Regions from separate parts of the Homo sapiens genome. Here regions 1 and 2 are each linked to region 3. The links come from fine-mapping of genetic effects on gene expression. A gene starts in region 3. Each other region holds a variant in brackets. All regions are shown on one strand. Distances are from middle to middle. Region 1 holds the start of ANKRD34B (ankyrin repeat domain 34B). Region 2 overlaps FAM151B (family with sequence similarity 151 member B). Region 3 holds the start of FAM151B (family with sequence similarity 151 member B).

Region 1 (8,185 bases), 87 kb before region 3:
GCACCTGTAATCCCAGCTACTCAGGAGGCTGAGGCAGGAGAATTGCTTGAACCCGGGAAGCGGAGGTTGCAGTGAGCTGAGATCGCGCCACTGCACTCCAGCCTGGGTGACAGAGTGAGACTCCATCCTCCCCCCCACCCCCCCAAAAAAAGAAGAAAAAATCCTGTTCTTATTATGTGGTTGAAATATTGAACCTATGATATTGAATGATAGTTTTTTATTTTTTTCTCCTTACATTGTCTGTTTCCTTCAGATTTTGATACTTCTGTTTATTTATTTAGTTTAGTTTTAATCTTTCCCATTAAAAGCTTCCCTCAAATGTCACATATTTGATGGTCAGCTCATATTTGAGAGTGAGGGACTAAAAAGATGTTTGGCAGCTCTGAGCATGTGGCTGAGACATTTGGACAGGAAACTTCACTGGAAGCTAATCTGAGCACCATTTGGAGACAGTCCCTGACAGGTCTGGCTTCAAGCTATCTGGGAATGGAGCACGAGGGCGGGGGAAATCCCATCCCCAGCATTCATGACATTCCCACGTAGTCAGGATGGTACCTTCACCTCGACTCTACCTGGTGTCCTCAGAGACCTTCCGTTTTCCTCTCCAGAGGAAAAAACTGCCATTTTCTGCTGGGATGGCACGGGGCAGTCACACTACTGAGAGGAGTAGGGGAGAGGAAGTGGGAACATCACTGCTTCTCAAACAGACTTTAAAAAATGTGTGACAACTTTATTCAAATGCATCTCAGATACCATGTTATCATCCATTTAAAGTGTTCAATTCAGGGGCTTTAGCTTATTCACAGTCGTATAACTATCACCACAATAAATTTCAAACATTTCTTCACGCCCAAAAGAAACCCTATACCAATTAGCAGCTAGTCCCAACTTTCCCCTCCTCCCAAATGTCCCCTCCTCAGCCCTAGGCAACCACCAATCTGCTTTTAGTTTATGGATTTGCCTATCCTGGACATTTCATATATATTGGATAATGTGATTGTGTGTGTTCTTTTGTGACTGGTTTCTTTCCCTTAACATAATGTTTTCACTTTTTCTTTCTTTTTTTTTGAGACGGAGTTTTGCTCGTCACCCAGTGTGGAGTGCAATGGCGCGATCTCGGCTCACTGCAACCTCTGCCTCCCGGGTTCAAGCAATTCTCCTGCCTCAGCCTCCCAAGTAGCTGGGATTACAGGCGTCCACCACCACAACCGGCTAATTTTTGTATTTTTTGTAGAGACAGGGTTTTGCCATGTTGGCCAGGCTGGTCTTGAACTCCTGACCTCAGGTGGTCCACCCACCTCGGCCTCCCAAAGTGCTGGGATTACAGGCATGAGCCACCATGTACGGCCTTAACATAATGTTTTTCAAAGTTTATCCTTGTTGTAGTATGTATAAGGACTTCATTTCCTTTTGTTGCCACATAATATGACGTTGTCTTAATATATCACATTTCATTTGTTCATTCATCAGCTGATGGACATTTAGGTTTCCTTTTTTGGACTATGAACATTGATGTGCAATTTTGTGTGTGTACATATAGCTTCATTTATTTGGGGTATAGCTAGGAGCAGAACCTCTGAGTCATATGGTAACTCTCTGTTTAAGCCTTTGAGGCTTAAACCAAAATATTTTTCAAAGCACCTGCACCATTTTACTTTCCCATCAGCAATTTATGAGTGTTTTAATTTCTCCACATGCTCATCAACATACGTTATTGTCTGTTTTTTTATTATAGCCATCCTAGTTGGTGTGAAGTGATATCTCTTTGTAGTTTTGACTTGCCTTTCCCTAAATGACTAATCCTGAGCATTTTTTTTTTTTTTTTTGAGACAAGGTCTGGCTCTATCGCCCAGGCTAGAGTGTAGTGGCACGATCTCCGGTCACTGCAACCTCCACCTCCTGGGTTCAAGCAATCCTCCCACCTCAGCCTTCTGAGTAGCTGGGACTACAGGTGCACACCACGACACCTGACTAATTTTTGTATTTTTTGTAGAGACAGGGTTTTGCCGTGTTGCCCAGCCTTGTCTCAAACTTCTGAGCTCAAGTGATCTGCCCACCTCGGCCTCTCAAAGTGCTGGGATTACATGTGTGAGCCACTGTGCCCGGCTGAGCATCTTTTCTTGTGCTTATTGACCATTTATATACCTTCCCTGGAGAAATGTCTACTCAGATCCTTTGCCCATTTTAACACAAGCCCCTTATCAGATATATGATTTATAAAAGTCTTCTCCCATTTTGTTGTCTCTCCATTTTCTTCTTGGTGTCCTTTGAAGCACAAAAGTTTTTCATTTTCATTTAGCCCAAGTATCTATTTTTTATGTTATTGCTTTTACTTTGGGTGTTATATCTAGGAAACCATTGGCTAATCCATGGTCAAGAAGATTTATGCCTATGTTATCTTCTAAGAGTTTTATAGTTTTATCTCTTACATTAAGGTCTTTAATCCTTTTGAGTTAATTTTTGTATATGGAATGAGGTAGAGGTTTAAAATTCTTTTGCACATGGATATCCAGTTGTCCCAACCCCATTTTTTTGAAGAGTGTTCTTTCCCTCATTGAATTGTCTTAGCACCTATGTTGAAAATCTGTTGACCATAAATATAAGGTTTATGTCTGGACCCTGCATTCTATTCCATTGATCTATCTTTTTGTCCTCATGTCAGTATCACACTGTCTTGATTAACATGGCTTTGTAAGTAAGTTTTGATATCAGGAAATATGAGTCCTCCAAAAAACCAGCTGGGATTTTGATAAGAATTGTGCTGTATCTGTAGATCAATGTGAGGAGTATTGCCATCTTAATAACATTGAATCTTCTGATCCATGTATATGGGATGTCTTTCCATTTATTTAATGTCTTTGACTTCTTTGACATAACTTCTTTAATGTCTTTGAGCAATTATTTTGTTTCCAAAATATGTTTTCCCCTTCTTTTGTTAAATTTCTTTCAAAGTGTTGTATTCTTTTGGATGCTATTGTAAATAAAATTGTTTTTAGAATTACATTTCATATCATTTATTGTTACCATATAGGAGTATAATTGGGTTTTTTTGTATATTGATCTTGTGTCTTGCAACCTTGCTGAACTCATTTATTAGTTCTAATTGTATATAGAATCTTGGGATTTTCTGAACACAAGATCATATCTTCTGCAAGTAGATATAGTTTTATTTCTTTCTTTCCAATCTGAATCCCTTTTATTTCATCTTCTTACCTAATTGCCCTGGTGGTTAGAAAGTTGAATAGAAGTAGTGAGAGTGGAAATCCCTGTCTTGTTCCTAATCTTAGGGAGAAAGCTTTCAGTCTTTCAGCATTAAGTATGATGCCCACCTTGGGAAAAACAGAATTTTAATCAGTTCTTATTTTAGTTGCCTTTTTACCCCTAGTTCTAAGATAATAATGCTACCAATTTCTGAGCATTTTAGGGCTTCTGGATTGTCGGCTGGATGGTTTTAGGCTGTCTCCACTGCAAGCTTAGAATTCTGTTTTCTTTAATAAAATATTAATGAAATGATGATAACTACGATACTGATAACCATGGAACTTTAAAAAAAATTGTATAAATTTAAGGGCGCAAGTGCAGTTCTGTTACATGGAAATGCCGGGTAGTGGTGAAGTCTAAGCCTCTAGTGTAACTATTACCCCAAAAATGTACATTGCACCCACTGAGTAATTTCTCATTCCTCACCCCTCTCCCATACCCTCATACTCTTCTAAGTCTTCCAAGTCTATTATTCTATACTCTATGTCCATGTCTACACATTACTTAGCTCAACCATGGGATTTTAAATTCAAGATGTCAGACTAACCACACGTTTCTCTGTCCAGGTGAGGGGTGAGAAATTACTCAATAGGTGCAATGTACATGTTTTGGGTAATGGTTACACTAAAGGCTGGATCTAAATTAAATTGGCAGTAAGTGAATTGTAAAATAGTATAAACCACAATTGTGAAGAGAACTGGGGTGATTTCATCAGTAGACTAGAATTTTCAGCTGATTTCTAGAAGACAGAAAGTAGATGGAGGGGTTTCTGATGAAAATGTTTATCAAACACATGCATCTACTTTTTTTTTTCTTTGAGATGGAGTCTCATTCTGTTGCCCAGGCTGGAGTGCAGTGGTGCAGTCTCAGCTCACTGCAACCTCTGCCTCCTGGGTTCAAGCAATTCTCCTGCCTCAGTCTCCCAAGCAGTTGGGATTACAGGTGCATGCCACCATGCCCAGCTAATTTTTTGTATTTTTCTTTTTTAATAGAGATGGGGTTTCACCA[C/T]GTTGGCCAGGCTGGTCTCGAACTCCCGACTTCAGATGATCCACCCACTTTGGCCTCCCAAAGTGCTGGGATTACAGGCATGAGCCACCACGCCTGGCCCAAGCATCTACTTCTACTTGTTTCTAAAATATATTTTTTGATGGCATAAAACCATGAGGACAGGGAGTCTCACATTCCAGAGAATCCCAGTCTATCACTCACAAAGTAGGATGTATCCAATTTGGTTTGAATGGCTTGGGTCGGTTCTGGGTCCTCAGCTTCCATGACCTCAGGTCGTAGTGAATCTACACTCCAGGGAGGTGGAGCCACACAAAGGACAGCGGGAAGAGCTGGGAGCTTCCTTCTGTTCCTGTTTCCTCTCCTGAGGCTTCTTAGGTGAATCATGGAGCTTTGCTCCCTGGCAGTCCCTTTGCTAAAATGAGGATAAAAACATCTGTCCTCTCTCCTTCAGGGGTGTAGTTGCTGGACTAAACTGAGATCAGAAGTAGGTATAATCTAGAAATTCTCATTCTCAGACTTTGAATGTTAAAATCATCTCCCTTTAACATTCAGATTACAACGATGGCATGGACTGGCCTGCCCAGGTTACCAGATGAGCTTTGTAGTCTAATCCAGACCTCCCCTTAACTCTCCTGCTGTGGAAGTCAGTCCTCATAATTCCACCATTGTGGCATGTGATGCGACACTGTCCACTGACCACAGGGCCTTTCCCACTGTAAAATGTGATGTGTTCACCACTGTTTAACTGCTGTTACCAACTCCCACGAAGGAGGATCTGCCTTCTCTAACATGTCACTCAGCATGGGTGCCCCCAGGCACAAATCACGTAGTGCCAGCAGGTTGGTGGTGGCTAGAAGTGGTGTTCCAGCATCAGCCCTCCTCTCCTGCCCACCAGTCCTGGCACAGCACCCAGGTCAACAGTAAAAATCCTACAGGTAAATTGTATCTGGGATACAATGTAAATTGTAAATTCATTATCCTCTGTTTATTCAGTCCATCCTCCATTCATGCAACATGTTCCAATATCCTGCTGATAGGTGTGGTGGGTTGAGTAATGAACCGCCATAGAGTTTAATGTCCTAATCTCTAGAATCTATGAATATGTTACCCTACAGGCCAAATTAATTTTGCAGCTGTGATTAAATGAAGGATTTTGAAATGGAAGATCATCCAAGTGGGTCCAGTGTCATCACAAAGGTCCTCCAGAGTGAGGCAGGAGAGTCAGAGGGAGAGAAGGAAGCAGAGGGAGAGAGAGACATGTAACAACAGAAGCGTGGCAGTGGGGAGAGGAGGGCAGGGAGGGAGAGAGAGGGAGAGACAGATATTGAAGATGGAGGAAGGGGCCACCAGCCAAAGAATGCAGATGGCCTCTAAAAGCTAGAAAGGGCAAGGAAACAGATTGTCCCCTGGAACCCCCAAAAGTAATGCAATCTTGCTGAGACTCTGGTTTTAACCACATAAAATTCAACTTGGACTTCTGACCTCCCGAACTGTAAGAGGATAAATCTGTGTTCTTTAAGCCACAATAAGTTCGTGGTGATTTTGTTTGTGGTAACAAGCAGCAATAGAAAACTAATAAAGTAGAAGTGAAAATTGGATCATCTGCTTTGAAAAGCTGTTTGGTGGCATCTCCAGAAGCTGAACATATGCCTACATCATGACTCACAATTCCACTCCTAGGTATGTACCCAACAGAAATAAGTATATATGGTCACCAAAAGACATCTATTTTAATGTTCATAGCAGCATTATTTGTAATGTCCCAAACCTGAGAATTACCCAAATGTCTATCAGTAGTAAAATGAATAAGCAATTGAGGCACAATCACAAAACGGAATACTATACAGCAAAAAGAATAAACAGACTACAGCCACACACAGTATGCATCTCTTAATCATACTATTAGTGAAAGAGGCCAGTCAACAGAGTGATTCAATCACTATAAAGTACAAAAAGAAACAAAACTACTCTATGCTGTTTGAAGCCACCACTCCCTCCAATGAGAAATCTGAAGAGGGAGTGTTGTGAGGGTACTGGTAATGTTCTGCTTCTTGATCTGGATGATGCTCATTTTGTGCAAAATCATCGGACTTGTGAAATGTGTGTCTTTTTTTTTGAGATGAAGTCTGGCCCTGTGGCCCAGGCTGGAGTGCAGTGGCACTATCTCGGCTCACTGCAGTTGCTGCCTCCTGGGTTCAAGTGATTCTCCTGCCCAAGCCTCCCCAGTAGCTGGGATTACAGGCATAAACCACAACACCTGGCTAATTTTTGTATTTTTGTAGAGATGGGGTTTCATCACGTTGGCCAGGCTGGTCTTGAACTCCTGACCTGGAAGTGATTCACCCTCCTTGGCCTCCCAAAGTGCTGGGATTACAGGCATGAGCCACAGCACTCAGCCAAAATATTTGCCTTTTAATAGGTACACTGCACATTGATGAAATTTTTTTAAGAGAACAGTCGGAGGTGGTAAGGGGGAGGAGCCCCGTGCCTTCATGCAAATTGGCTCAGTCTTCCTGGTAACCTCCAAACAAACAGCTGTAGGCAAAGGGCAGCCCAGATATAGGATTCAAACTCCCTAGAGCCTAACTTTGGGGTAAAGCACCCTGTGCAATTGCTTTGCATATGTTTACTAAATGAGGACCCTTTAGGTCCTCATTTCGGAGAGATCTTTTCTTTAATAAAGGAAGCCTGACCAGAGATAAATCTACTTTTCCCGAGAACTCAAAACTATAAACAAGTTTTGATTGACATTATCTGAATAACAAAAATAGTGATGGCCTTTCTCCACCAGACCCTCCAAGATAAATGAAGAGTTAAAAACTTTGCTTCTGGCCGGGCGTTGTGGCTCACACCTGTAATCCCGGCACTTTGGGAGGCCGAGGTGGGTGGATCACTTGAGGTCAGGAGTTCGAGACCAGCCTGGGCAACATGGTGAAACCCCATCTCTACTAAAAATACAAAAATTGGCCAGGCGTGATGGTGCACACCTGTCATCCCTGCTACTCCAGAGGCTGGCTCATGAGAATCGGTTGAACCCAGGAGGCAGAGGTTGCAGTGAGCCGAGATCACACCACTGCACTCCAGCCTGGGTGACAGAATGAGACTCCGTCTCAAAAAAACCAAAAACTAAAAACGACAGAAAAAGTTGCTTCTGCTTCATTTCCTTTTCATCTCTCAGTAGAGTTTAACATATGAAATGTATTTTTCGAAATTTTGTTAATATGTTTATTCATGTTTTAATAATAGCATAATAACCTTATAAATTCCTAAAGACGTAAATAAGAACGGTTGTTCCCACTAACACCCCAACCTGAAGTGTGGCTCTGGCTTTACCTGAAGTGGGTACAGGGATGCGGAGGGGTGGAAGGACCGGTGGGGACAGATGGACCCATGAACCAGCGGGTGGATGTGAGCTGAGGGGAGGGATACGGACTGGAGGAGCCAAAGCCCGTGACGTAGGGGTGCGTGCTTCCCTCAATGGGGAGACCCTGCTGCCGCTGTTGTTGGCCAAGTCGCCGTGGCCGAAGCGCGGTGGCCGAAGCGGGGGACGGGGGTGGGACTTACGGGGACAGAAGGCGGAGCTTCCAGCAGCTGCTGGCCCCCCTGGGTCCAGAGGAGCCTTGCCGCCCTCACCTGCGCAGAGCCTGGAGCCGACGCGTCACCCCCAGCGGAAGCGCCTCGCTGCCCGGGCGTCTGGCGAGGTGTGCGCTCCGGGTCCCAGCTCCAGCGCTTCGCGGCAGTCGCCCGCCTCTTTCCGCAAGCAGGGCGGGGACTGGGCGGCATCTACCGAGATCTGCGATTCGAGGCGCCGAGGAGCCGAAGACCACAGCTCAGCTCAGACGGCGCCCTAGGGCCGCACAGAGGGTCGGGCAGTGCCGGAGAGAGGTTTGAAAGCGCCGCCGCCAACTCGACAGCG
Region 2 (8,185 bases), 30 kb before region 3:
GTGGGCCAGGCATGGTGGTTTATGCCTGTAATCCCAGCACTTTGAGAGGCCAAGGTGGGAGGATAGCTTGAGCCCAGGAGTTTGAAACCAGCCTGGGCAACTTAGTGAGACTTCACTTCTACAAAAAAATTTAAAAAGTAGCTGTGTGTGATGGTGTATGCCTGTGGTCTCAGCTACTCTGGAGGCTGAGGTGGGAGGATCACTTGAGCCCAGGAGGTTGAAGGTGCAGTGAGCCATGATGGTACTACTGCACTCAGCCTGGGTGACAGAGCCAGACCCTGTTTTTTAAAAAAAAAAAAAAAAAAAAAAAAAGGCCAGGTGCAGTGGCTCATGCCTGTAATCCCAGCACTTTGGGAGGCCAAGGTGGGTGGATCACTGGAGGTCAGGAGTTTGAGACCAGCCTGGCCAACATGGTGAAACCCCATCTCTACTAAAAAACAATACAAAAATTAGCTGGGCGTGGTGGCGCCTGTAATCCCAGCTATTCAAGAGGTTGATGCACGAGAATCACTTGAACCTGGGAACCTGGGAGGTGGAGGTTGCAGTAAGCTGAGATCACACCACTGCACTCCAGCCTGGGCAACAGAGCAAGACTCTATTTAAAAAAAAAAAAAACCACATGGAAAACACACTTGCTTGTTTCTAAATAGCTTGAAAAAAAAGTATCTATGTATATATAGAGAATATATATTTTTATATATAAATAAACTATATACATAATAAATAAATATATATATATATACACACACATATATATATATGCACACACTTTTTTTTTTTTTTTGAGACAGAGTCTCACTCTGTTGCCCAGGCTGGAGTACAGTGGCACGATCTTGGCTCACTGCAACCTACGCCTCCTGGGTTCAAGTGATTCTCCTGCCTCAGCCTCCCGAGTAGCTGAGACTACAGGCACACACTACCATGCCTGGCTAACTTTTGTATTTTTAGTAGAGACGGGGTTTCGTCATGCTGGCCAGGCTGGTCTCAAACTCCTGACTTCAGGTGATCCGCCCACCTTGGCCTCCCGAAGTGTGGTGATTACAGGCATGAGCCACCACGCCCGGCCAGAATATATCTATTTTAAATAACTCTATACTCTATCAAAAGCAAGTTGTAAAAAATATTGGTCAGTCAGTAAAGGAACATTTTACAGAAATCTTAAGTGAATATGTTAGTTTAGCAGCTAATTTCCTGATAAAAAGAAGGGACGTGTTCCACTTTCCTTTAAAATCTGGAAAATTATATTTTTAAAAATTAGAAAAAGAGATTGCTAACAGAAGCTTTACTTATATGACTATAAATGTGTGAACTCTCTTAAAATCTGCAGCGTCACCAGTGAACATGGCATCTATCTGAAAGAGCAGATGGAAGGGTCTGCACATACCTGAAGGGTCAGGCCTTTTTTTCCATCAGGCTTAGATTTTGTAGAATGGGTTTTGGTCTTTGTATTAAAGATGTTATTTTTATACCTGGAGGATATTTTAATTTGACCAAGAAATACATTATTAGAATTATTACCTTCATTGACTTTCTCAGGATGCCATCCTGTTGTCCAACCCAGGGAAAACGTCACGTCTGGAAAGAAGGATATCACGGTGTCTAAAAATGGTTTTGCATCTATTACTTTGCTATTTCCATTTGGACCAGGAAGAATATCGGCATTAATCCATACAGGACGCTTCAGATGCCTCTTCACATTTTCCAAGAGCATCATGGATGGTTCTACAACTGCCAGACTAAAAACATAATTTGTTGTCAATGAGATAGATTCTTTAGGTAAAGTAAAAAGAAGTTCTTTTAGACTAGTGGTCTCAATGTTCTCAAATTCATAATCAAAATACAATAATGTCTGGGTTAAATAAAATCAAAGATCGCATAGCACCAGAGGGAAAAGCTAACATATGCCATATCTCTAAATGTTGAACTGTGCTTATTATTCATGAATATACCTTAAAGAGTCTATAAATATATGAATAGTGGTACTACTTGTGGACAAAATAGAGGTTTCAAAACTCCATATTAGGATCACTTGGTGTGAAAACAGTTTTTTAAAAGACACAAATATTCACTCGTTCCAGAATGTATAAATAAGATAAATGAAATACACTTAATAACCTGTAAATTCACATTTATGAAATACCCAAGTGGATCCAAGCCCTGTATCTCTAATTCAGGCTCATGACCCTGGAGAATAAAAGTAGCTTCTTTCCCTTATGTATTCTTGGGTGAGTTTGGATACATAAACAATTCTAAAAATGACTGTAAAATATAAAATTATAGTATTTCCTTCAAGTTTCTGTTTCATTTTTCTTCTTTTATTGTAAGAACCTTTTCTGAAAATTAGAAATACGTATATTTTAGTTCAAATTTAAAAAGCAACTTCAATCTTTTTACTTCCCTACAGATATTCTAGCTGATAACTACAGACTTTGAAACAATAAGGTTTTAATCAGCTTCCATAATTTTTACTTGCCTATGTTCATTTATAAGAAAATTACCTTGTAGTGAATATCATAATGGGAGGCTATGAATTTTGGAGATGGATACTGGAGGGGAGAACACTCACCGACCCCTCCTCACATTTCCCTCTCTCTTCCTAAGAGACGGCAGTACTTCTGTCTATGCTTCTACCTCTCTTGTCTCCACTCCTTTTGGGCCTCCTACTCTAAGAGAAGAAATTTAAATAATCTCATTATTTATTGGGTTATGTTTACCAGTGAGCAAGGATACTATGTACTAAAACCAGAGGAACCCAGGCTCTATCCCTTAGCTTCTAGCCCCTTTCCCTCTGCTGCCATGTGGTACGCTTCCTTCTCACTCTTCTGCCCCTGAATTGGGGAGGGCCTAGATTTTAGTGGATTAATAAACCTTAATGCTGGACTCTGCAGACATTAATTTAGATGTTGTCATTTGTCTCTTTTAAATTCTCCCTGCCTTGCCCTGTGTCAACACCATGTTAAAACCACAATTCTGAGATCCAACACTGTACTTCCTACAAAATTCCATTTTTCGTAGCAAGCAACTTGTACCTGTGACTCCAAAGCTTGCTTGTCTGTCAGTCCCATAGCAGCAGCCAAGTCCCCATGAGGTGCTGCTCTTCATGGGTGGAGTAAGGAAAAACCTTGAACTAATCCATGCATGCCTCCTGCCAAGCTCCTCTTTTTCCAAAAAGGACTCTGATTTCTTAAGAAATCTGGTGTCTTATGGAAGCTGGGTTAAATACTAATTTCCAGTTTACATTTCAGGAGGGAGCCTTTTAGGCTTTCTCAATTTAGTAAGTTGACATAGAGTGAGTGGTTTAAGATTGATTCTTCATCTGATAATATCCAGTTTCTTTTTTTTTTTTTTTTTTTCTTTGAGATGGAGTTTCGCCCTGTCACCCAGGCTGGAGTGCAACGGTGCGATCTCTGCTCACCGTAACCTCTGCATCCCGGGTTCAAGCCATTCTCCTGCCTCTGCCTCCCAAGTAGCTGGGACTATAG[G/A]CATGCGCCACCACACCCAGCTAATTTTTGTATTTTCAGTAGAGATGGGGTTTCACCATGTTGGCCAGGCTGGTCTTGAACTCCTGACCTCAAGTGATCCACCTGCCTCGGCCTCCCAAAGTGCTGGGATTACAGGCATGAGCCACCGCACCTGGCCAATATCCAGTTTCAAACAGCGTATTCTCCCACAAATCGAAATTCCACCAGTGTTTACTAAGTGCCTACTACATGCGAAGCACTGTGCAGTTAAACATAAGGAACTATGACAAAGAACACAGTGAAGCAAGAATTTAGTACATTTATTCCATTTTATATGTAAATATTTTAATTATCACTAATGTAGACGAAGGATAATGATATTTTCCCTTACCAGAAACTTAAAATCTGCGGTTAAACAAATTTAAAACCTCACTAAAGAACCAAAAACTTTTTGTTGTTGTAGTTCTTATTTTCTAAAACTTGACGAAGTAATTCTAAAGTTCTTCTGGAAGAAAAGGTGTAACATTTTGTGGGAGAAAAAAGAACTGAGAACAAACTTTCCTAAACAACAAAATAAAATCTACAGTAGTCCACCTTATCTGCAGGGAATATGTTCCAAGACCTCCAAGGGATGCCTGAAACTACCTAGCACCCAACCCTATATGTAGTCTGTTTTTTTTCCCTACACATACCTATCTCTGATAAAGTGTAATTTATAAATTAGTCACAGTAAGAGATTAGCAACATAAACTAGTAATAAAATAGAACAATTATAGCAATATACTATAATAAAAGTTATGTGAATGTGGTCTCTCTCTCTCTCTCAAAATAGCATACTGTACCGTACTCACCCTTCTTCTTGTGATCTGTCAATCTGATAACTGTGACGGCTATTAAGTGACTAACAGGTGGGCAGCATATATGGTGTGGATACGCTGGACGAAGGGAAGGGATGAGTCACACCCCAGCTGGGATGGAATAGGAAAGTACCAGATTTCACCACACTGCTCAGAATGGTGTGTAATTTAAAACTTATTGTTTATTTCTCAAATTTTCCATTTAACACTTTTAGACCATGGTGTACTGCAGGTTACTGAAACTGCAGATAACAGAGGACTACTGTATACTACAAGAAATAACAGACCAAGCCTGGAAGACTCAATATTGCATGTATTATAAAATGACACATCCTTCTAAATTAATCTATAAATTCCATGTGATTCTAATTTAAAATACAGTGGCCAACATTCTCAATTCTTACATATATTAGTACTAAGTTTCCATAAGGAAGTACCAAAGCTTCACCAAGATGATCATCCGAAGAGGAAAGTCCTGGTGAGACTACTACTGAAAATTGCTCCTTGGTGGTATTTATTTAAGTCTCCTGAAAAGAATATAAACTTAGTTATTATAGAATATATTTTTTTCCTAAAAAGTTATTTGTAAATCAAACTTCTAAATATCATACCCTGTTTTCCTATTAATTTCATTTAAAAATTGGGAATGATAAAATAAATATCGTACTTAAAATTGTAACAAACTATATAAAATTGCATTGTTTAAGGGAAAATAATTCTTAGCTAAAACGCTGAAGAGCTTGCTGAGACTCCAGATAAAATTTAAAAATATAATACTTTTTTTTTGAGATGGCGTTTCACTCTTGTTGCCCAGGCTGGAGTGCAATGGCATGATCTCGGCTCACTGCAACCTCCGCTTCCCGGGTCCAAGTGATTCTCCTGCCTCAGCCTTCCGAATAGCTGGGATTACAGGCATGTGCCACCACGTCCAGCTAATTTTGTATTTTTAGTAGAAACGGGGTTTCTCCATGTTGGTCAGGCTGGTCTAGAACTCCTGACCTCAGGTGATTCGCCCACCTTGGCCTACCAAAGTGCTGGGATTATAGTCATGAGCCACTGCGCCCAGCCAAAATATAATACTTTTTATTTGTGTACCAAACAAAGTAACTTAGAAGCACAAAACAAGAACTACTAAAACTTAACTAACAGGTCATTCAGCTGCTCTTACAAAGGGAGTGAGTGCAGCATTCTGGTTAAAAGTGTGAACTCTCCAGCCAGGCTGACAGCTCTCTAGTTCCACTAACAACTACGTGACAAGCGGGCTCCTCAGCCCCTCCATCTCCATTGCCTCATCCGGAAAATGAGAATAACAGCAATAACCTACCTCTTAGGATTGTTACGAGAATTTAATGAAAAATACATGCAATGCTTTTACAACAGTGTCTGACATGTAATAGGTGTTCACATACCTATTAGTTTATATTGAATCCCCTTCAAATATGTTATGACTTTAAAAAAAACTTGCAAAATCTTTGTTTCAGAGGCTCAGCGCTTTTGTGCTAGCTGCTAGCACTTAAGAATGAATGAGCTGATCTGACTGGTGAGAAGCCAAAGAATATGTCCCAGGAAACAATTCAAGGGGCAATAGTAAACATGAAAAACTGAGCACGTGACATCAAGGAGATCTAAAAGTTTAAGCCATCAAGCACTAAAGATCAAATGCTTTATTTCATGATATAGAGAACACTGGACTGGCTTCAGGAGAATTAGGATCTGGTTGTAGCTTACCTGTCAAAGCTTACCTGTTACCCTCAGGTACATCACTTAACCTCTCTGGAACTAAGTTTCTTTGTCAATAAAATGAAATTGAACCATTGATAACTCAAAAAGTTTATGATTTTTTATTATTTATTTATTTATTTATTTTTTTGAGACAGAGTTTTGCTCTTGTTGCCGAGGCTGGAGTGCCGTGGCGCAATCTCAACTCACTGCAACCTCCACCTCCTGGGTTCAAGAGGTTCTCCTGCCTCAGCCTCCCGAGTAGCTGAATTACAGGTGCGCACCACCATGCCTGGCTAATTTTCTGTATTTTTAGTAGAGAAGGGGTTTCACCATGTTGGCCAGGCTGGTCTCAAACTCCTAACCTCAGGTGATCCACCCGCCTTGGCCTCCCAAAGTGCTGGGATTACAAGCGTGAGCCACCGTGCCCGGTCGAAAAAAAAGTTTATGATCTTAAGATAGTTCTTTAATTCACAAGACCCTGTCAATCCAAACTCCTGTATATCAAGATTTTATACATCTATTCATTCACTAACGGTATAATAAGGTTTACTGGTATATTTTGCCCCATAACAAATGGTTAGAGTCATCTTAAGAATCCTACAAGATTCCAAGTCCTTATTAATTTCTTGAGATAATTCTATTTAAAAATATTACTCAGAGATGAAGTAGGCTTACTGCCAATCCTAGATTTCAATAGCAGCTGCCTTCATAAGCTTTACAGTGTGCTTCTGAAGTGTTGCTGTATATTTCTGGCTTTCTTTATCATTTTTACACTGCTAAAATACTACAAAAGTAAAATTTCCTGTGATGGCCACAGTGAAGGAAATGACAGCTTACTCTTGCTCTTCAGTATTAATGCCTCCAAATATTATTATTATTATTATTATTATTATTATTATTATTATTATTATTTGAGAGGGAGTTTCACTCTTGTAGCCCAGGCTGGAATTCAATGGCGTGATCTCGGCTCACTGCAACCTCCGCCTCCCAGGTTCAAGCAATTCTCCTGCCTCAGCCTCCCCAGTAGCTGTGATTACAGGCGCCCACCACCATGCTTGGCTAATTTTTGTATTTTTAGTAGAGGTGGCGTTTCGCCATTTTGGTCAGGCTGGTCTCAAACTCCTGACCTCGGTTGATTCGCCCACCTCAGCCTCCCAAAGTGCTGGAATTACAGGCTGAAGCCACTGTGCCCGGCTGCCTCCAAGCATTATTTTTAAGAAACACTTTGGTTATTGGAGAATTCTAAATAATTCCCTTTACAAATATAATAACATAAATCAAATAGGGTATGCATTAACTAGCTCAATGAATTTCTCCCAGCTCTCTCTCTCCTGGGTTACTTTTTAACATATGTAGCATTTTTAATTTACCTTTCTGTTGTCACGATGGTCACTTATGATAAATTCCTTTATAAAAATTAATCTAACTTTTGCCTTTAAGGGTCTCCAAAAAACAATTTTAGTAAATAACTCAGTGGGTCTTAGGTTCATTTAGGTTCAGTCCTGAAATATATTAGAGTCTACAATTCCATTTTCAGTTTGGATAACATTAAAAAAAATAGGTAGTCAGGCACAGCTATTACTTTTTTCCCAGAAAATTGAACGTGTTTATACAAATACCTTTTGAAATCCAGCTTGATGCCTTTATTGCTTTTCATAACTTCAGTCAGCCACTCCTGTAGAGTATTATCACTGTTTGTTTCAGGGGGATGGGCCATAATTGGCTGGCTGTGTTCTGATCCATCACTTGGAAGAAGGACATCAGCCTCTATCATGTGAGCAGTACCTGTCCAAATAAAAGAACTTCAGTTAATGCTAAGAAAACAGGGCACAGAACTACAGGAGGCACCATGTTCAGTATCCTTTTGAGGAAGATAAAAAAAAAGGAAAGAAAAGTAACACTCAGTGAGCGATTATCCCATGCCAGGCAGTATACAAGGTCCGTACACATTCTCCCTATTTTTTAGATTAGCAAACAGATGTCAAGAAGTTAAATGACTTTCCCTAAGTTACACAGATCTTAAGCTGTTGACATACAAATTCTGAATTTCTTTCTAATACCAGCAAAGTACATACATAATGAAAGGCTTAATAAGTATTTGCTGAAGCTTTCTGGGAATAAAAATCGTACTTTTATCTTCTCACT
Region 3 (8,185 bases):
AGTGGTTACCAGAGGCTAGGGATGCAGCCAGGGCAATTGGATGGGAGGGGGATATGTCAGTCAAAGGGTGCAAAGTTCCGGTTAGACAGGAGGAATAAGTTCCCAAGATCTATTGCACAGCAATGGTGACTATAGTTAGTAATTCCAGGCATGCTGGCTCACAACTGTAACTCCAGCACTTTGGGAGGCTGAGGCGGAAGGACTGCTTAAGCTCAGTAGTTCGAGACCAGCCTGGGCAATGAAGCAAGACCTTGTCTCTACCACTAAAACTAACAATAATAATAACCCAGGCATGGTGGTGTGTGCCTGTAGTCCCTGCTATTCAGGAGGCTGAGGCAGGAGGATCACTTGAGCCCAGGAGGTCAAGGCTGCAGTGAGCCATGATTGCACCACTGCACTCCAGCCTGGGTGACAGAGCGAGACCCTGTCTCAATGATAATAATAATAATAATAATAATAATAGTGTATTATATATTTTGAACTTCTTAAATGAGTAGATTTTAAATGTTCTCATTACAAAGAAATGATAAGTATGTGAGGTGATGGATATATTAATTAGCCTGACTTAATCATTCTACCATGTATACATGTATCATAACATCACATTGTACCTCGCAAATATGCAATTATTATTTGTCAATTAAAAATAAAATTAAAAAAGAAAGTTTGCTATTTGCTGACCCCTGGACTAGACAATCATTAAGGTTCCTTCCAGTTTCCAAAAGTGACTACCAGAATTGACTTACCATTAAAGACAATGTACCATATGTCCACACAAAAACTTGTACACAAATGTTCACAGTAGCATTATTCACTATACCCAAAAGATGGAAACAACTCAAATGTCCATCAACTAATGAGTGGATAAACAAAATGTGGTGTTTCATGCAATTCCTTTTTTGGCCATAAAAAGGAATGAAGTATTGAAACATGCTACAAGATGGATGAATCTTGAAAACACTATGATAAGTGGAAGAAGCTAGACATAAGAGGGTCTATATTGGATGATTCCATTTATATGAAACATCCAGAACAGGCAAATTCATAGAGACAGAAAATAGAAGAATAGCAGTTGTGGATGTTAAAGGGTGGGGGATGGGGAAGTGTTTCTTTTTGTAAGGTGAAGATGTTTTAAAATTAATTGTGGTAATTGTTGCACAAGTCTGTGAATAAGCTAAAATTAAATAAATAAGCTAAAACCACTGAATTATACTCTTTAAATAAGTTGTATATTAATAGTATGCAAATTGTACATCAGTAAGGATTTTGAAGAATTTATTAATTTTTTTAAGGCTCTGGCTCTGTTGCCCAGGCTGGCATGTTCTTGGTTCACTGCAGCCTCTCCGGCTTAAGCGATTCTCCCGCCTCAGTCTCCTCCTGAGTGGCTGGGTCCACAGGTATGTGCCACCACCATACCTGGCTAATTTATTTGTTTTCTTTTGGAGAGATAAGGCCTCCCTGTGTTGCCCAGGCTGATCCAAACTCCAGGGCTCAAGCGATCCTCCTGCCTTTCAAAGTGTTCAGATTACAGGCGTAAACCACCACGCCCGGCCAGGACGGAACTTTTCACTATACATCCTATTGTGCCTTTTGAACTTTTTTATGTTGAGAATGTGTGTGTGTGTGTGTGTGTGTGTGTGTGTGTAAGGGGGAAAAATGACATATAACGGAAGAATCTGGTTAAGAATTAGTTTTATCAATAACTCGGTAATGAGAAGAAATTTTTGTTTTTGTTTTTGTTTTGAGACAGTTTCTCTCTGTTGCTCAGGCTGGAGTGCAGTGGCGCAATCTTGGCTCACCGCAAGCTCCGCCTCCCGGGTTCACGCCATTCTGCTGCCTCAGCCTCCTTAGTAGTTGAGACTACAGGCGCCGCCACCACGCCCGGCTAATTATTTTGGATTTTTAGTAGAGACGAGGTTTCACTGTGTTAGCCAGGATGGTCTTGATCTCCTGACCTCGTGATCCGCCCACCTCGGCCTCCCAAAGTGCTGGGATTACGGGCGTGAGTCACCGCGCCCGGCCCAAAAATTTGTTTTTTAAAAAATGGCATTTGTCAGCAATTGGACATTTTTCACTTGTGCACACATTTTATTCCAAGATTTTGTAAACCTTGCATCGATTCAGAAGAGAATCTGGATTTATACAGCCTGTGAGTGAGAATGGTGTAAGTCTTGAGTGTGAGCTTTGTCCCAGATTTGTTTGGATTCTTAGGAAAACTAGGCATTAAAAGGATTTATACTGAGAAGAGCACAAGGGTTAAAAAAGGAAAACTCTGGTCTGAAAAAATGTTCTACGGAGGTTTAGCACAGATCTTAAAAAAGAGAGAGAGAAAAAAGTTCACATCCTTTGATCCAGTAATTTCAGTTACAAGAATCGTGTCCAGGATAAAAACAAACCAAAAACATAACTGAGGAAGAACAATGCAAAAATGTTCATTACAGAATGAATTCTAACAAAACAAAACAAAACAGGAAACGACTGATTAACGTTCAACATTAGGAGACTGGTTAATTACAATATAATTGTATACAATATAATTGTATAAAACACTTCAGTCATTCAAAATTATGTTTATAAAAACCTTGGTGACATGGGATAGTATAAGATGCAGGATTTTAAAAATTATGTTTACCATGACCTTAACTCTATTTTTAAGAGTCAGGGTTGTTAGAAAATACCAAAAAGTTAGTAGTGGTGCCTGTGGGTATCAGCATTTGGGGGATTTTTTTTTCCTATTTCCCTATACTAATATACTTTATAAATGTTCTATAATGGCATTTATCAGGACCTGGACATTTTTCGCTTACACACACATTTTATTCCAAGATTCTGTAAACTGTGCATCGATTCAGAAGAGAACCTGTATTTATACAGCCTGCTAGTCAGAATGGTGAAAGCGTGTATTATTTTTACAATTAGGGAAAAAAATCTAAACTGAAGAAAGAACGCGTCACTGACGTTGTCTCATGCCACTACTTAAGTTTACAGAAAAGATACTGTAACCTTCAAGAGCGGAACTGCTGTCCCGCGAGTTGAAGCACCTGATTCCAAGGGGAATCAAGCGAGCCGCACACTCTGCCAGCTTTCCAGGCAGCGCGCTCAGCAGCGGGACTATGCCGGGCCCGGCCCAGTCCGCATTCCCAAACCTCCCCCAGCTTTCAAAGAGGAACCTACTGACCCAGACCGCCCCCATACGGTCGGCTGAAATTAAGGATTAGGGAAACGTCACATTCCTTTCTTTCCAACCCAGACCTCAAAAGACACTGACCCTGCCATTCTCGACCTCCCCTAACGCCTGTCCCTTAGAGCCCACCCGGCAAACCAAGGTCCTTGCCAGGCGATCGCGGGCGCGCCCCGAGTGCAGAGCGGGCTCCAAGCCCAGCCGCCCGGTTCTGCGCGGCGCGCTCCCAGGTCCCTAGCAAGGAAGACCGCGGGAGCCCGCAAAGGGAGGGTACGGCCGGCGGAGCCTCTCAAAGCGCCCCACCTCCAGGCAGAGGCCGCGCGCTCGGCGCTTACCTGGGCCTCCAGCGGATGCTGCCATGGTGACGACGCCCGCCGTCCGCGCAGGCGCCCAGGCTGGCGCCCCTGCTAACCGGGCACTGGTGGCAGGGAAATTCGACTCCACAAACCACAGGCCTCGGCGGGGGAAGAGCCCGGCGGGCGCCAGCGAAGCGGAACCAAACGGAGCCGCGGCACGCAGGCGCAAAGGCTGGCGTTCGAGGTTCGTTTACGCGCCGCTTCGCCGTGCAGGTGGTGGCGAAGCGCTCCTCCGAAAGGTTTCGGAAGCTGGTGGTAGCTCTGAAGATAACGCTGCGTTAGGGCATACTGCGGCGGAGGATGGAACTCCGATTGAAAGCAGTTGCTGGAGTGGAGCACGAATTTCAACAGTTGGGTATATTTTCTTTTAAATGTTAGTAATATCCTAAAAGGGTGTGGAATCATTACTGATAAAAATCAGTGTTTCTGGCCGGGCACGGTGGCTCAGGCCTGTACTCCCAGCACTTTGGGAGGTCGAGGTGGGCGGATCACTTGAGGTCAGGAATTCGAGACCATCCTGGCCAACATGGTTAAAACCCGTCCTTACTGAAAATTTAAAAAATTATCCTGGCGTGGTGGCGCGCGCCTGTAATCCCAGCTACTCGGGAGGCTGAGGCACAAGAATGGCTTGAACCGGAGAGGTGGAGGTTGCAGAGAGCCGAGATCGCTCCACTGCGCTCCGGTCTGTGCGATAGAGCTAGACTGTCAAATAAATAAATAAATAAATAAATAAGTTTTTGTACAAAGTTACCGAGCTGATAACTTGAAGTTTTCTCTCCCCTTCTGTCTCTCTACCAGTGTTCACTCAGAAAACGCTCTCAGCAACTGGGTCCTCCCATCCACTGTCTTTCTAGCCCTCCTTAACTCATTACTTTTTGAAGCCAAACTAGTGATCAGAATTAACAACAAAGCTCTGCCATTTTCAGCTTCTGTGACCAAAAAACTCAATCTGCCAGTGGTAGAGTTAGGATAACTAACATCACCTGACACGTAATACAAAGGGGAGTTATTCTTGCCCAGCCTTTCAGATAAAATATTTTTCATCACTCCAAAGCAATCACTCTCCATTTACCCCCTTCCTACCCCCAGGCAACAACTCATCTACTTTCTGTCTCATGAATTTGCCTATTCTGGAATTTCATGTAAATAGAATCACAGACTGTATGTATGATCTTTGTAACTGGCTTCTTTCACTTAGCATGTTTTCAAAATTCACCCATGTTTTAGCATGTATCAGTACTTCCTTCCTTCTTATGCTGGAATAAATTCCAGTTTGTAAATACCACATTTTATGTGTGTCCATTCAACAGCTGAAGGACATTCGGGTTGTTTCTACATTTTGTCTTTTATGAATGCTGCTGCTGTGAACATTCATGGACAAGTTTTGTGTGGACGTATATGAATACATTCCTGTGTGCATATCTGTGTACATACCTAGGAGTGGAACTACTTGTTCATATAGTAACTGTTTAACTGTGTGAGGAACTGCCAGTTTTGCAAATCAGCTGTACCATCTTTCATTCCCACCAGCAATGTATGAAGATTCCAATTTCCCCACATCCTTACCAGTCAGTACTTGTTGTTATGTTTTTTAAATTATAGCCATCCTAGTAGATATGAAGTACTACCTCATTATCTTGATTTGTAGTTCCCTACTAATAATATTGAGCATATTTTCAGGTGCTATCGGTCATTTATATATTTCCTTTGGAGAAATGTCTTCTCAAATCCTGTGCTCATTTCAATTGTGAGAATTCTTTATATAGTCTCAATACAAGTCCCTTAACAGGTAATTTGCAAATATTTGCAATATTTTCTCCCGTTGTGCAGATTGTCTTTTCACTTTCTTGATGGCATTGATTGCAGTACAGGTCTTTTTTAAAAAACTTGTTTTTCTTTTTTTTTAGATGAAGTCTCACTCTGTTCCCCCAGGCTGGAGTGCAGTGGCACGATCTCGGCTCACTGCAACCTCCACCTCCCGGGTTCAAGCGATTCTCCTGCCTCAGCCTCCTGAGTAGCTGGGATTACAAGCACGCACCACCACGCCTGGCTAATTTTTGTATTTTTAGTAGAGACAGGATTTCACCATGTTGGCCAGGCTGGTCTCGAACTTCTGACCTCAAGTGATCCACCCGCCTCAGCCTCCCAAAGTGCTGGGATTACAGGCGTGAGCCACTGTGCCCGGCTTTTTTTTTTTTTCATTTTTAAAATTTTTAACTTCAGGGGTCCAAGTGCAGGTTTGTTACACAGGTAAACTGTATCATAGGGGTTTGTTGTACAGGTTGTTTCATCACCCAGGTATTAATCCTAGTACCCATTCATTGTTTCTCCTGCTCTCCCTCCTCCCACCCTCCACCCTCCAAAAGTCCCAGTGTGTTGTTCCCCACTCTGTGTCCATGTGTCTCATCATTTAGCTCCCACTTATAAGTAACAGCATGCAGTATTTGGTTTCTGTTCCTGCATCAGTTTGCTAAGTTTTTATGACATATTGGTCACAATATTACAATATTTTCATATATTTTACAATAACTGACTCAAAATTCCTCTTCACTGTCCTTATTTTTAGAGCCGCATGTTGAAGTGTGAGGCGTGAAAGGGTATGTCTGATATTTGCTTTAAAATGCTCCAGCAAAGAAATTAAGGGATGGATGAAGCAAAAGAGGTAAGTCTTGATAGTGTTGACTCAGAGGATTGTTGTAGGCTGGGTATATAGATTTTCATCCTACTATTTCCTTTACTTCTGAGTGTTTGGAAATTTTATGGTAAAAATAAGTCTAATTACTTTTTTGGCACAAAAAAGGTTTTGTAAGTTAAGGGTACATGCTGCACTGGGGAAAGAATATAACGATTAGAATGTGAGACACAGGCCCCAACTTGAGTCTGGGGCTGCTTTTGGTGACATCTAAACATGAATAAAGGCCAGGCATGGTGGCTCACACATGTAATCCCAGTACTTTGGGAGGCTGAGGCAGGAGGAGACCAGGACTTTGAGACCAGCCTGGACAACATAGTGAGACCCATCTCTACGAAAAAATAAAAAACAAGCCAGGTGTGTCGGCATGTGCCTGTAGTATCAGCTAATCAGGAGGCTAAGGTGGGAGGATTGCTTGAGCCCAGGAACTCAAGGCTGCAGTGAGCCATGATCACACCACTGCATTCCACCTGGGCCGCAGAGTGAGACTCTGTCTCAAAATCAAAACAAAGCACTGCATGAATACAGCTTACCTCATTTTCAGAGTCCTAATAGCTAGAAAGTTTTCCCTCAAATTCCAATTTAGTTTCTAGCTGTGTGACTTTGGACAGATTACTCTCTCTCTGAACTTGGTATCTAGTCTATGAAATGCAATAATAAATCACAGGGGAACTGGGTGCAGTGGCACGCACTTGTAGGCTCAGCTACCCAGGAGGCTGAGGCAGGAGGATGGGTTAAGAGCCTAAGTTCAAGGCTGTAGTGTGCCATGACTGTGCCTGTGAATAGCCACTGCACCCTAGGCCTGGGCAATACAATGAGACCCTGTCTCATAAATAAATAAATAAATAAATAAATTTAAAAATAAATTACAGGGTAATATTCCTTGTTCTGAAGTTTGCTTTGTCTGATAGCAAAATAACCACTCCAGCTTTGTCCTTTTCTTCTTCTTTTTAGTGTTTGCATGGAATATCTTTTTCCATCCTTTTACTTTTTAACCTGCATGTACCATTGTATCATAAGTGGCTTGTATAGATAGCATATAAATTAGGTTTTAAAAAAATCCATCTGGCCAGGCATGGTGGCTCATGCCTGTAATTCCAGTCCTTTGGGAGGCCAAGACAGGCAGATCAGTTGAGGACAGGAGTTCAAGACTATCCTGGACAAAATGGTGAAACTCCATCTCTAATAAAAACAAAGAAAAAATTAGCCAGATGTGGACATGCCTGTAATCCCAGCTACTCAGGAGGCTGAAGCAGGAGAATCACTTGAACCTGGGAGGTGGAGGTTACAGTGAGCCGGGATTGTGCCACTGCACTCCAGCCTGGGTGACAGAATAAATGAGACTTGATCCAAAAAAAAAAAAAAAAATCAATTGCCATATTTAGACCATTTACATTTAATGTAATTGTTATTTATTTTTATTTTTAGGGACAGGGTCTTGCTCAGTGGCCCAGGCTGGAGTACAGCGGTATGATCACAGCTCACTGCAGCCTCAAACTACTGGGCTCAAATGATCTCCCACCTCAGCCTCCTGAGTAGCCAGGACTATAGGCATGCACTACCATGGTTGGCTAATTCTTTTAAGTTTTATGTAGATACGGGGCCTCACTACATTGCCCAGTCTGATCTTGAACTCCTGGCCTCAAGTGATCTTCCTGCTTCAGCCTCCTAAAGTGTTGGGATTATGGGCATTAGCCACCACACCTGGCCTAGTGTAATTTTTGATACAGCTGGATTTAGGTCTACCATTTTAGCATTAATTTTTCTTGTTGATCCCTTATTTCTTTTACACTTGTTTTCCTTGCTGGCTTTATTTTGAATTATTTAAAATTCCACTTTATATGTCGGCTTTTTAAACATATCTCCTTGCATAGTTTTTTAAAATGGTTGCTCTAGAGATGATCATTACATACCAAACTTTTTGTAACCTACTATAATGTTTTACCACTTTAAGTG

The links. PIP is the estimated chance that this variant, and not a neighbour inherited with it, causes the effect. A credible set is the group of variants that fine-mapping cannot tell apart.
Region 1: its variant is the best candidate, but not a certain one, in a credible set for the expression of FAM151B in whole blood (TOPMed, PIP 0.54).
Region 2: its variant is the best candidate, but not a certain one, in a credible set for the expression of FAM151B in whole blood (INTERVAL, PIP 0.79).

The regions. Positions count from the first base shown.
Region 1 is chr5:80,570,162-80,578,346 of GRCh38, reverse strand. ANKRD34B (ankyrin repeat domain 34B) reads left to right here and starts at 8,067. Exons shown (of 5, transcript NM_001004441.3): 1 at 8,067-8,185. The variant C/T (reference allele first, on the strand shown) is at 4,270.
Region 2 is chr5:80,513,244-80,521,428 of GRCh38, reverse strand. FAM151B (family with sequence similarity 151 member B) reads right to left here. Exons shown (of 6, transcript NM_205548.3): 3 at 7,660-7,825; 4 at 1,519-1,736. Among named protein-coding and RNA genes, the nearest start is that of FAM151B, 29 kb to the right of the region's middle. RefSeq lists an enhancer at 7,679-8,185. The variant G/A (reference allele first, on the strand shown) is at 3,483.
Region 3 is chr5:80,483,480-80,491,664 of GRCh38, reverse strand. It overlaps FAM151B (family with sequence similarity 151 member B), which reads right to left and starts at 3,565. Exons shown (of 6, transcript NM_205548.3): 1 at 3,517-3,565. The coding sequence starts at 3,541. It overlaps FAM151B-DT (FAM151B divergent transcript), which reads left to right and starts at 3,719. Exons shown (of 3, transcript NR_172938.1): 1 at 3,719-3,887; 2 at 6,104-6,199. RefSeq lists a silencer at 3,001-3,295 and enhancers at 2,960-3,459, 3,460-3,961.